2 linked regions of the Homo sapiens genome follow. The protein of the gene in region 1 purifies or fractionates together with the protein of each later gene. This does not show direct contact. Each region holds a gene or a part of one and is shown on either strand. Other genes may lie near its edges.

The links. Proteins that work in one complex are often made in the same cells at the same time.
Region 2: the proteins of GPR150 (region 1) and ABHD17B purify together in Homo sapiens (affinity purification with mass spectrometry; one large-scale study listed by BioGRID and IntAct). This does not show direct contact.

Annotation. Positions count from the first base shown.
Region 1 is NC_000005.10:95,618,091-95,623,792, reverse strand, and holds GPR150 (probable G-protein coupled receptor 150), read right to left. Parts: upstream 3,707-5,702; 5' UTR 3,518-3,706; coding exon 2,213-3,517; 3' UTR 1,651-2,212; downstream 1-1,650. UniProt on the Homo sapiens protein: Orphan receptor.
Region 2 is NC_000009.12:71,865,165-71,870,200, forward strand, and holds part of ABHD17B (alpha/beta hydrolase domain-containing protein 17B), read right to left. Parts: coding exon 4,919-5,036; intron 1,843-4,918; coding exon 1,623-1,842; 3' UTR 1-1,622. UniProt on the Homo sapiens protein: Hydrolyzes fatty acids from S-acylated cysteine residues in proteins. Has depalmitoylating activity towards DLG4/PSD95. Has depalmitoylating activity towards GAP43. Has depalmitoylating activity towards MAP6. Has depalmitoylating activity towards NRAS.

The sequences.
Region 1 (5,702 bases):
TCTCTCTTGAGCGCATTCGAAGTGGTCCAACATTAGGAATCGTATTCTGAAGACTCTCTGAGATTCTGCCTTGATTTCTCATCTAAGAATTCCCCCCTACCCTTCCATTTGGTGATCCTTCATGCCATCATTGAGATGACCTTTCTAAAATTGAAATTGGGTCAAATTATAACTGATTAAATTCTTCAAAGGCTACTTTTTGCTTTCTTGGCTTGGCACACAGACCTGTCTTCACTGGGGCCAGGCTGAATTTCTCTGACCACGTATCTCATTAGGTCAGGCCCCAAAGGCACCCTAAAGCTATTGTCATTACTTGACTATGCTATGTTCTGTCTCTTCTATGCTTTGCAGTGCTATTCCCGTTGCCTAGAACACCTTTCCTGACCTGAAGGGTCACCCCCAAACCAGCCTTCAAGAGCTTCTTTTGGTGAGTCTTTCCTAATGTCCCCTCATAGTCCCCCAAGATTGTCAGATTCTCCTCTTCAGTTCTTCTGGCACCCTGACTGAATTCCCCTGTTATAACACAGGTGACACTGCAGTGTAATTGTCAGATTGTTTCCTACATTTGACTATAACGTCTTTGAGGGAAAAATGTGACTTATTCATCTCAGCATCTCCAATGCCTAGCTTATTAACTGGCACAAAATAAGCAGGTAATAAATGTTTATTAATGAATAAATAATGGTATAATCTAGACTTGGGTTCATGAAGACAACTGTATCCTCTCTTTGGCTGATTTATTCCTGGTATTTTGCAGACCATTGCATCCTCAACAGGGTAAGGAGGAACAAAGAGAGGAAGGAAAAGCTACAACTCTGGAACATCTGCTGTCAAAATTTTGGAGGAAGGTAAAGAAAGCTTAGTAAAGATTTTCTTTCGTATATCTTTTATTTGTTCTATCTCTAACTCACATGATGAATTGTTCAACAAATATATATTGAGAGCCTACTACATGTCAAGCATTGTTTAAGCATTTGGAATATATTAGTGAACAAAACAGCCCTCAGCATTGGCTCTACAAAGAGCTTTAAACAATCATTTCCCCTTTCTGCATCTTAGGTCTGCATTTGTGCATGAACAAGAAACACTATAATGGAAAGCTTTAGATCCTCATACAAAAATCACTGATAAACCCATGGATATATTGTTCATAAGTGCTGCCACTTCTGTCTAGAACCAAGAACAGTTGAGAGGAAGAGGTTACTGATCAAATCCGCTCTTGACCTTGTTCTCAGCTATCCACACCAACAGGCATTGAATTCATTTTTTTAACAAGGGAGTTTTATATACACATGCAGCATTCTGAGGTTTTGACTTCCTTCCTAGCTGCAAATCTCTTTGAGGCTCCATCTGGGACACTGAGCCCCACCCATATGCACCACCTTGAAGCTTCCTTTCTCTGGTTTGCTGGGGACTTTGTACGGAGAGGCTCCATCTGGGCATAGCATTACACCTTTAGAGGCTGCTGGGGGCACAGGGACGATTTCCAACAGAAACCAAGTATATTTGAAAGACACCAAGTCAAGCTTTTGTTTCCTTCCTACAACCTCAGCTTCTGTTGAAGTGGAAACTAGACTGGAAATAAAGGCCACGCTGATTTTCTTCTGAGAAAATACATTACTATGTTAAAAAAAAAAAAGTCCCAATTGCTCCGTGGGAAAGGTTTTTATTTTATAAATACTCTGTGGCTCTGAAATGACAGCATGATTACATTTCTGACAGCACTGGTATAATTCTCAGACTCCCCAGGGAGAGCAACGTGGGGATTTTCCTCCTGGAAAGAAAAGGCAAACTTGCAGGTGCTGAAGGTACATTTGATTTAAGCACGATTCAAAATAAGTAAATACAGATGATAACACAGCAAATACTGAAAGTTGGGTAATCAGCAAAAATAAATGGCATTATCCAGAGCACTATAAATGCGTGAAAGAAAACTGCAAAAATAACTGTTTTTGTTTTTACAACTTTCCAGTGGCTCACTGTCTCCAAATGGGGAGATATGAGAGGAACTGTAGGGAAGAAGAGAAACTGGAAGAGCATAGGGAAATGTAAACATGAGAAGGGAATAGGAGAGTGGAGGAAGGGGACAACTTCAGTGTCACTCTCTCACAGACTCTCCTGCCCCTTGTGATCTGGACAGACCCTGGCAGGCCTCGAGTTCCCTGGAGGTTGCGCCTTAGCGACAGATGACCCGTCTCTGACCACCAAGCACCTAGAAGGCACTTTCGCAGGAGCAAGGCAGGGGTCTGGGGCGCGGAGGGGGTGGGCGCAAGCCGCCCTCGTCCAGCGGTTCCCGCCGAGCATGGTGATAATGAGGGTGGGGCCAGCGTTGGCGGTAGAGCGCCTGGTGGCCCCGGGGCCCCTCCTCGTCCTCCGCGCCTCCCTGCGGCGCGCAGCACAGAGAGCCCAGCCGCTTCCGCAGCTGTCGCCGGAGCCGGCAGTCGCCCGCCTGGAAGAAGAGGTAGACGAAGGGATTGAGAGCGCTGTTGGCCATCGCCACCACGCGCAGCGCCGCCGACAGGCCCTCTCCCTCCCAGTCTCCCGCGGGCCCGGACGACCACGCGGCCGCCAGCCGGGCGGCAAAGTAGGGCAGCTCGCAGCCCACGAACAGCAGCGCCAGCAGCAGGCTCATCTTCAGGCTCTGCACCTTGGCGCGGGGCAGCGCGCTGGGCGCAGGGGCTCGACCTGGGCTCGCCGACCAGGGCGCTGCAGCCGCGGGGGCCTGCGGCCGGTGCCGCCACCAGACGGAGAGTAGGTGGCCGCAAGCGACGCCCAGGACCGTAACAGGCGCGACGAAGCCCGCGACGGCCTCGTAGAACGCGTAGACCTGCAGGTGCCAGCGCGGCAGGGGCGCGAAGATCCCGTGGCAGCGACGCTCCCCCGGCCAGGCGCGGGCGGCCGGGGGCGCGCCTGGCTGCAGGGACGTTGGCGGCGGCGGCGGCGGCAGCGGCGAGGGGGAGTCCCCGCGCACCACGAAGGCCGGGGGCAGCGCCAGCAGCAGTGCCAGCAGCCAGCCCAGGGCGGCGAGGGCACGCGCGGGCAGCGGCCGGCCGTGCGGAAGACGCACCGCGCGCCGGCGCTCGAGGGCGATGAGCACCACGAGGTGGGCCGAGGCGCCCCGCCCGGATGCCTGCAGCAGCTGCAGGAAGCGGCACGCCAGGTCCCCCGTGGCCGCGCGGGGCTCGCCCAGCAGTTCCCAGGCCAGCTGTGACAGCGCCGTGCCCCCGCACGCGTACAGGTCCGCCAGGGCCAGCTGCACCAGCAGGAAGTCCATCTTGCGACGCTTGGGGCCCGCCCAGGGCCCGCCGCCGCCGCACAGGCGGCACAGCACTGTGGTGTTGCCTGCCACCGCCACCACCAGGATGACCCCCAGGAACACCAGGCGGACGCGGCGGCTGGGCGGCCCAGAGGCAGGGGCTCCTTGCCCCAAGGTCAGGTTGAGACCCCAGCCCAGCAAGATGGGCACGGAAATGTTGGGCGCCGGCGGCAGAATTGAGGGGCTAAAGAGATCCTCCATCCTTGTCCCGGAGGAAGAGGAGGCACCGAAGAGGGCGGGCAGGACGCGGGAAACCAAAGTGGAGGCGAGGCGGCGCGGGGAGCGACGCTGGGTCTATACGAGTTCCCAAAGTTAGTTGAAAAGGCACACGCACAGAGAGGGAGATGGATTCGGGCGGCTTTGCGCTTAGTTGTTTTTGTCGATTGTCCTCGTGATTTGTCACTCAAATGTGGGTTGTACACTCGAGGAACACACATGATTCCTATTCTCCACCTTCCCCGCGTCTTCCCTCCCATTCCCGGCGGGTACTCTTCCAATCTCTGCAGCGGCCCCCGACGCTACCCTCGCGGAAGCCGCGGACCCCTGGGCGCTGAGAACCTCATCCATTCTCTATTTACGTGTAAAGCACAGCAGGACAGAATGTCGCTTTGCTTGGCCATTGTATACGGCCAGTGTTATGCCAGCACCCACACAAGAGAGGACCTCTTGACTGAGATTGTACCACACGCCCCCACCACCCCAATGTGATTGCCAGTAGGAAAAAAATAGAAAAGACATTAGTTTTTATTTTAAAGGTTTGAAATGCCATGGATCTGCACGAGCATGAGAAAAACAGGAACACAAGAAACCTAACAGCGTTTTGAGCAAAGAGGAGACCTATTAGCTGAATTTTGATCAAGATGTGTCTTCTCTGTCCAAGAATGAAAGTATTTTAATTAGAGGGTACTAAAGTCAATGATGTTGCTTTTAGGAGTGGCAGTGTTGCAGATCGTTCCAAATACTAGGAGCAGTGGGTCACAGCTGCTTTCTTGGTGATGTAAAATTCATTTCATTAGTCTGAAGAGGGCATTAATAGGTTTTATGCAAATGGTAGTGCATTTATTGCTTTTCTCCTAATATTTTCATCCAGTGAAGGATGCGTCATCACACTCCTCATTCTCTTGATTCTGTTTTCCAGCAGATGGGAAGTTGCTAGGAGGGGCTACGCCTCCAATAAGCCTAGAGAAAAGGTGACTAAGAAAGTGATAAGGCGGCCAATTTTTTTAAAAAAGAAATCCAAGTCACAGGAAATGGTTTAGATTAAATGTTGCTGCTTTCATTTTAGCCTTGTCTCCTCACAAACACATTTTAGTTTCCCTGTTGGAAGCATCCATTTGTCTTTTTATGCACCCTCCACGTTAATCATGGTGAAAGTAGAATTTCCTGTACTTCCTGGCCTGGGGGCCAGGGAGGTATGAGTGTTGTCTAGGGTTCACATTCCCAATCTGAGGAAACATTTGGAACTTTAAGATTCATGGCCTAGGAAGATTTGGTGGGTTCCATGATAGTCCTGCCAGCTGCTGTAGGAATCCCATTTCCCAAGCTGTTGTCCTTTGGCCAGAAACCTTGGTTATTTTCATCATCATCTCTGTGGTGCCTCGCTCTGGTCTGACAGGTTGTAGTTATCAGTGGGTATGTGTTGAGTTGATGAATTAGTGGATATACGATGCTTTTCAGATACCTTCGAGCATAAATGCCTGCCTTGACTATAAATCCATCACCTAAGAAAAAATTCCTTTTATACTATGCCAGTATTGTCCAGAGGAGCCCAAGGAAGCTCTGTGGAGACATAGGAATAAGTGTTCCTGGTGGGACATTTAAGAAAGCTAGAGTGATAGCCTTGGAAAATCTAAAATCCTGGTTTGATTTTCATACTCTCCCTTTAGAACTTTTTATCCAAGGCCTTTTTCTATGCACACACATCATCCCAGTTTATAATGCACTTCTTCCAGGGAGCCTTCTCTGAGCAATGTTCATCATTCAGTGATTTTCCTAGCCAGTATCATTTCAGTGTTTCTCAAGATAGTCTATCATTTGTCTCAAATTTGTTGAAATGCTCTTATATATTAGCATTTCAAAATGACTATAGTGAAATTTCACAGAACTTTAGTAAGATCTGATAAAACATTGATTTTCAACAAATTCTTTTTTTTTTTTTTTTTTCCCTTTTTGAGACAGGGTCTCACTCTGTTGCCCAGGCTGGAGTGAAGTGGCATGATCATAGCTCACTGCAGCCTCGACTTCCTGGGCTCAGGTGATTCTCTCACCTCAGCCTCCCAACTAGCTGGGACTGTAGGCAGACACCACCACACCCAGCTAAGTTTTGTATTTTTTGTAGAGGCTAAGTTTCGCCATGTTGCCCAGGCTAGTTTTAAACTCCTGGGCT
Region 2 (5,036 bases), on another chromosome or scaffold:
TGTTGTTTTACTGTTAATTTGACACATCTGAACCAAAGCATTCACAATACTTGATATACTTTGAAGAGAGTCATATACTATAGTCTTAAACATAACCACGGAACGAGCAGAACAATTAAAACTACATAAGGCCTTAAAATATATCCACAGTGTGTATTATTTCCATATTCATTCATTTACAAATTAGACTACATACCATTAATTTTATTTTTATTTTTCATTGTTTTATTCAGACAGGGTTCATTCAAGGAAAGGCAACTTAGTTTTTGTATGTGTGAGCTTTATTTTTTTACTATATTGGTTAATATAAAAGTTATGAATTAAACGTATTCTTATCTCCTATACCCAGGAGTGAATCCATGAAATTCTCAGATAGTAATCCAAAACAATAGGTCCTATTTTTAAAAATAGCTAAAGTGGGCCAGGCGCAGTGGCTCATGCCTGTAATTCCGACACTTTGGGAGGCCAAGGGCAGATCATGAGGTCAGGAGTTCAAGACCAGCCTGATCAACATGGCAAAACCCTGTCTCTACTAAAAATACAAAAATTAGCCAGGCGTGGTGGCAAGCATCTGTAATACCAGCTACTCAGGAGGCTGAGGCAGGAGAATCACTTGATCCCGGGAGGCAGAGGTTGCAGTGAATCAAGATCGCGCCACTGCACTCCAGCCTCAGTGACACAGCAAGACTCCATCTCAAAAAATGAAAAAAATAGCCAAAGTGAAAAGGGATCTGATAGCCAGTCTGTTAGTGGTCTTTAAGATCAACTCATGGACTTTCGGGATTTCATACAATGAAGACTACTGCAATTCTATGAAGACTATGAGATCAGTCAAAATTTAAAACATCGTATACAAAATCATTCTTGAAATCTCTAAATGCCTTTTAAGTAACCAGCATGAAAATTTTAAGTACTTGCCTCACAGTACCAAACTTAGAAGTCAAAACTAGTTAAAATTCAGTGCTATCATGACTTCTCATTTACAAGGTAACTCATTGGTAAATTAATAGATGGCATAAAAATTAAGATTTACATCTTTTTTAAAGGATAAATGTATGTAATCAGAGTATACAGAAAATTCAATGTATTTTACAATAAAATAACTTTAAACCTCTATCCCTGTACAACAGGGTTTAGGTTAATTCTAGTGAACTTGCATGGTTTTAAATCTCTTTTACAGTTCATTCCATTATGAGTACTTAAATTGCTTTAGATACATAGCTTTTTTCAAAATATTACAGTTGTATTCCAGGATAAGATTTAATATATTGAGATGTTTTAAAAATATTTATAAATTTGTTTCTAGTATGCAAAAGCATTTGGCAATACTTTTACAGCATTTGATTTTATAGAATTAAAATCTCATACAGTACTCATCTTGATGTTAAAAAAAAATTCACAGAAAAAATATAAATTACACAGCCTGACTGCACGGTACTGTTATTTCCAGTTTTTAGTTCTGGTAATTAAAACCTTCATTAAGTCTGTTAACAAATCATTACCTGTACATTTATGAAGGCAACTGACATGATTTGCAAACAAAACCTTCAGGTTTTATGTTATTTACCAAAGAGTGCAGTTCAGCAAGAAAGGAAAACCCAGTAGCAAATTTACAGAATATTTTACAAATTTACCAGTTCCTGTGACACAAACTGTTTCAACCTTTCAAGATACTGTCCATAAAGTTCCACATCATTGTGACCTGCTCCTTCAACCCAGAGAGGCTCCACAGGTCTTTGGCAACGTTCAAACAATGCGAGGCCATGTGAAAAGTCAATGACTTCATCTTCAGTCCCATGAATTATTAATACTGGAGAGGTTATCTTAGAGATTTTGTCAATGCTGCAGGGAAAAAGGAAGGGGGAAAAATGCAATAAATTAACTATGTAAAGGAACATATTCTTGTGCTATATCAGACAGATAATTCAAATATGAGAATTGTATGAATCAGTTCAGAAGGTAAGAATGTCTCCTGAATTTCCAGTAAGATTCAAAAATTGCCTTTTACATACTCCCTACCTTAAGATTATCTGAGGAAGTTATTTTCATGCACTTGTTTTGATGGTTTTGCTGGAATCACTCAATGCTCTTGTCACTCTACTGTACCTTTCTACAATGTTGACTTTTGGCACAGAGAAACTTAGGTGTCCAGAAGAAGAGAAAATTTAAGAACCATTTCAAGTATGCGCTAATTTCACTTTCTGCACTCACTATATTCTTTCTCCTAGTCTCCTACTAAAATGACAGCAAAATGTTTTATGTTTTTGTTCTTGTTTGAGGATAAAGATACAAAAACAAGGAGAATGTACTAAAATATAATAAAATGTTGGAGCTGGAAAGAAGATTAATGTGTGAAACAATTTATTAAAAGAAGAAAACACAATTTTAGGCAGATAGATGGTAAAGTGATGAACGAAACCAATTTATACAACAGAATACCCCAGAAAGCTAAGGAATTACCATGGTGATGAAGGGGGTGATTGAAATATACAGGATTTTTGCAAAGTCTGTGTAAGAAAGTTAGCCTCCCCTTCCCAGTTCCTTTTGCCTGTTCATATACCCAGAAACTGCCTGCCCCCAAGACTGGAATGTCTGTGAACTAGAAGACTGCCAGAGTTTAGAACAGAGGTATCATAGAGACAATGGAAACATATACATTTACATACTGGCTACTATGAACCCATTTTCCCTATGTGGCTCCCAGAATGCTGGTAGTCAGGCCACTGTCCTCCAGGAGGGACTTTTAGAAAGTCTTCTTTGGGCCAGGTGCGGTGGCTCATGCCTGTAATCTCGGCACTTTGGGAGGCCGTAGTGGGTGGATCACCTGAGGTCAGGAGTTCGAGACCAGCCTGATCAACATGGTGAAACCCCGTCTCTACTAAAAATACAAAAAAAAAAAAAAAAATTAGCCAGGCATGATGGCGCATGCCTGTAATCCCAGCTACTCGCGAGGCTGAGGCAGGAGAATCACTTGAACCCTGGAGGCAGAGGTTGCAGTGAGCCAAGATCACACCATTGTACTCCAGCCTGGGTGTCGCAGCGAGACTCTGTCTCAGAAAAAAAAAGAAAGAAAGAAAGAAAGAAAGAGCCTTCTTTGGAGATTATTATCAGATCAGCCCTTTAGTTGATCTGCTAAATCTTGATTGTCTGCTTATATGTAAGAGTAAAGAGTTGATCAGCTCCTTTACTTACATATAAGCAGGCAACCAAGAATTATCAGACATGAGAGGAGAACACTTCAAATAACAGAGGAATCAAAACAAACACTTTTTTAAAAGGCAACTTGGAGGACACAGAAACTACACAGACAATTCTTTTTAAGAATCTTTAGAGAAAGGTATTATAATAAACATAAAATGAAAATGGAATGTTGACAATGAAAAAACCATCAATGAAATAATCTAAGGCTGCATTTGGTAAGAATAAATACTTGGGTTTACTATCTGTTGTCAGAAAGATGTTCAGCGGTAGAGGAATTAAAACTTGAATAAAAAATAAAAAGAAGTATATTATCTTTTTCAAACAGTTTATTTTTATTTTTTGAGACAGGGTCTCGCTCTGTCGCCCAGGCTGGAGTGCAGTGGCACCATCTTGGCTCACTGCCATCTCTGTCTCCCAGGTTCAAGGGATTCTCATGCCTCAGCCTCTCGAGTAGCTGGGATTACAGGCACGCATCACCATGCCTGGCTAATTTTTGTAATTTTGGTGGAGACGGGGTTTCACCATGTTGGCCAGGCTGGTCTCGAACTCTTGGCCTCAAGTGATCCACCCGCCACGGCCTCCAAAAGTGCTGGGACTACAGGCGTGAACCACTGTGCCTGGCCAAACAGTTTATTTTTAGTGTTGCTCTCTGTTGGTGCACCAGAAATGAAAGAGGGAGCTAGATGGAGACATAAGTTGACAACAACACTGATATGGGGATACTCAGATACATCCCTATCATTTTTACCATTCAGCTAGACAGAGGCAGTATAATGCCTATACCCACATTACCTGAAACAAAAACAAACCCAAAACAAAATAAAAACCCAAACATGCCCACAGCTTGCCCTTGTGATAAGATCATGTGTTCACATACTTTCCCTACTAAAGTGATCCATTACTGGCTAATGATGAAAATTCTGTGTTTTTAAAATAATTCTTGAACCATGTGATGACTTTGCCTTTGGCCCATCGGCCATTCACAAAAAAAATCCTTTGTATTGCTGCCAATTGGAGAAAGGAGAGAAAACTAAAATTTGCCAACTTATTTCTTGTCTTCTCCTTGAGAAAAATAGGCCATTAATTTTTTCCAACTATGAAGAGTAGGTGGGAACTACCTCCTGTCTTGAGAAGCATGAAGGAAAAGTAGCTACTTTCCTTTCAAATACATCTAAGTATGTTTGCAGGTTTTGTGGCAGCAATACTTACTAATCTAGTTAATTTAAGATTCAACTTTTTTTCAATTCACTTCTTTTGTAAGTTAGGTATCATTAATCAGATATTTACTCATTTTAGCTTCTACCTGTTCTTCTCTAACATCAAGTGTCTCACTGGATGGCCCTATCCATTAGCACCTCAGGGCAGAAACATGGTAGTCATGTTCAAGTTTTTCTCTTTAGCATCCTACACCCAGTCTGATACTCAGTTCTGTCAAATTTATGTTTCAAATTAATTCCCTTGTCTCCAATACTAGTGCCACCACCTGAGGTGTAAGGCCCTCAGCAATTTTCATCTGGATTACTACTCCTCAAACATTTCAGCCTTCTGACTGGTCACCTGCTAATACCCTCTTTACAAATTAATTTTTCATAATTTCTATGTGCTAATATATATAAAATGAAGTTTATGGTTGAGTGAACTGTGTCATGAATACTTTAAATGATGAAAAAATTCCCAAGTTTCTTGGAATTTAACTATTTTGAATATTGCTACTTACTTTGGGAATGCATCAAAACAGTAGGTCTTCTTGGTATCAGGAAAGGCAACTCGCATTCCCGAAGTCAGAGGAGAATGAAGAATAACAGCAGCACTCTCATATCGAGCAGCAAGATCCA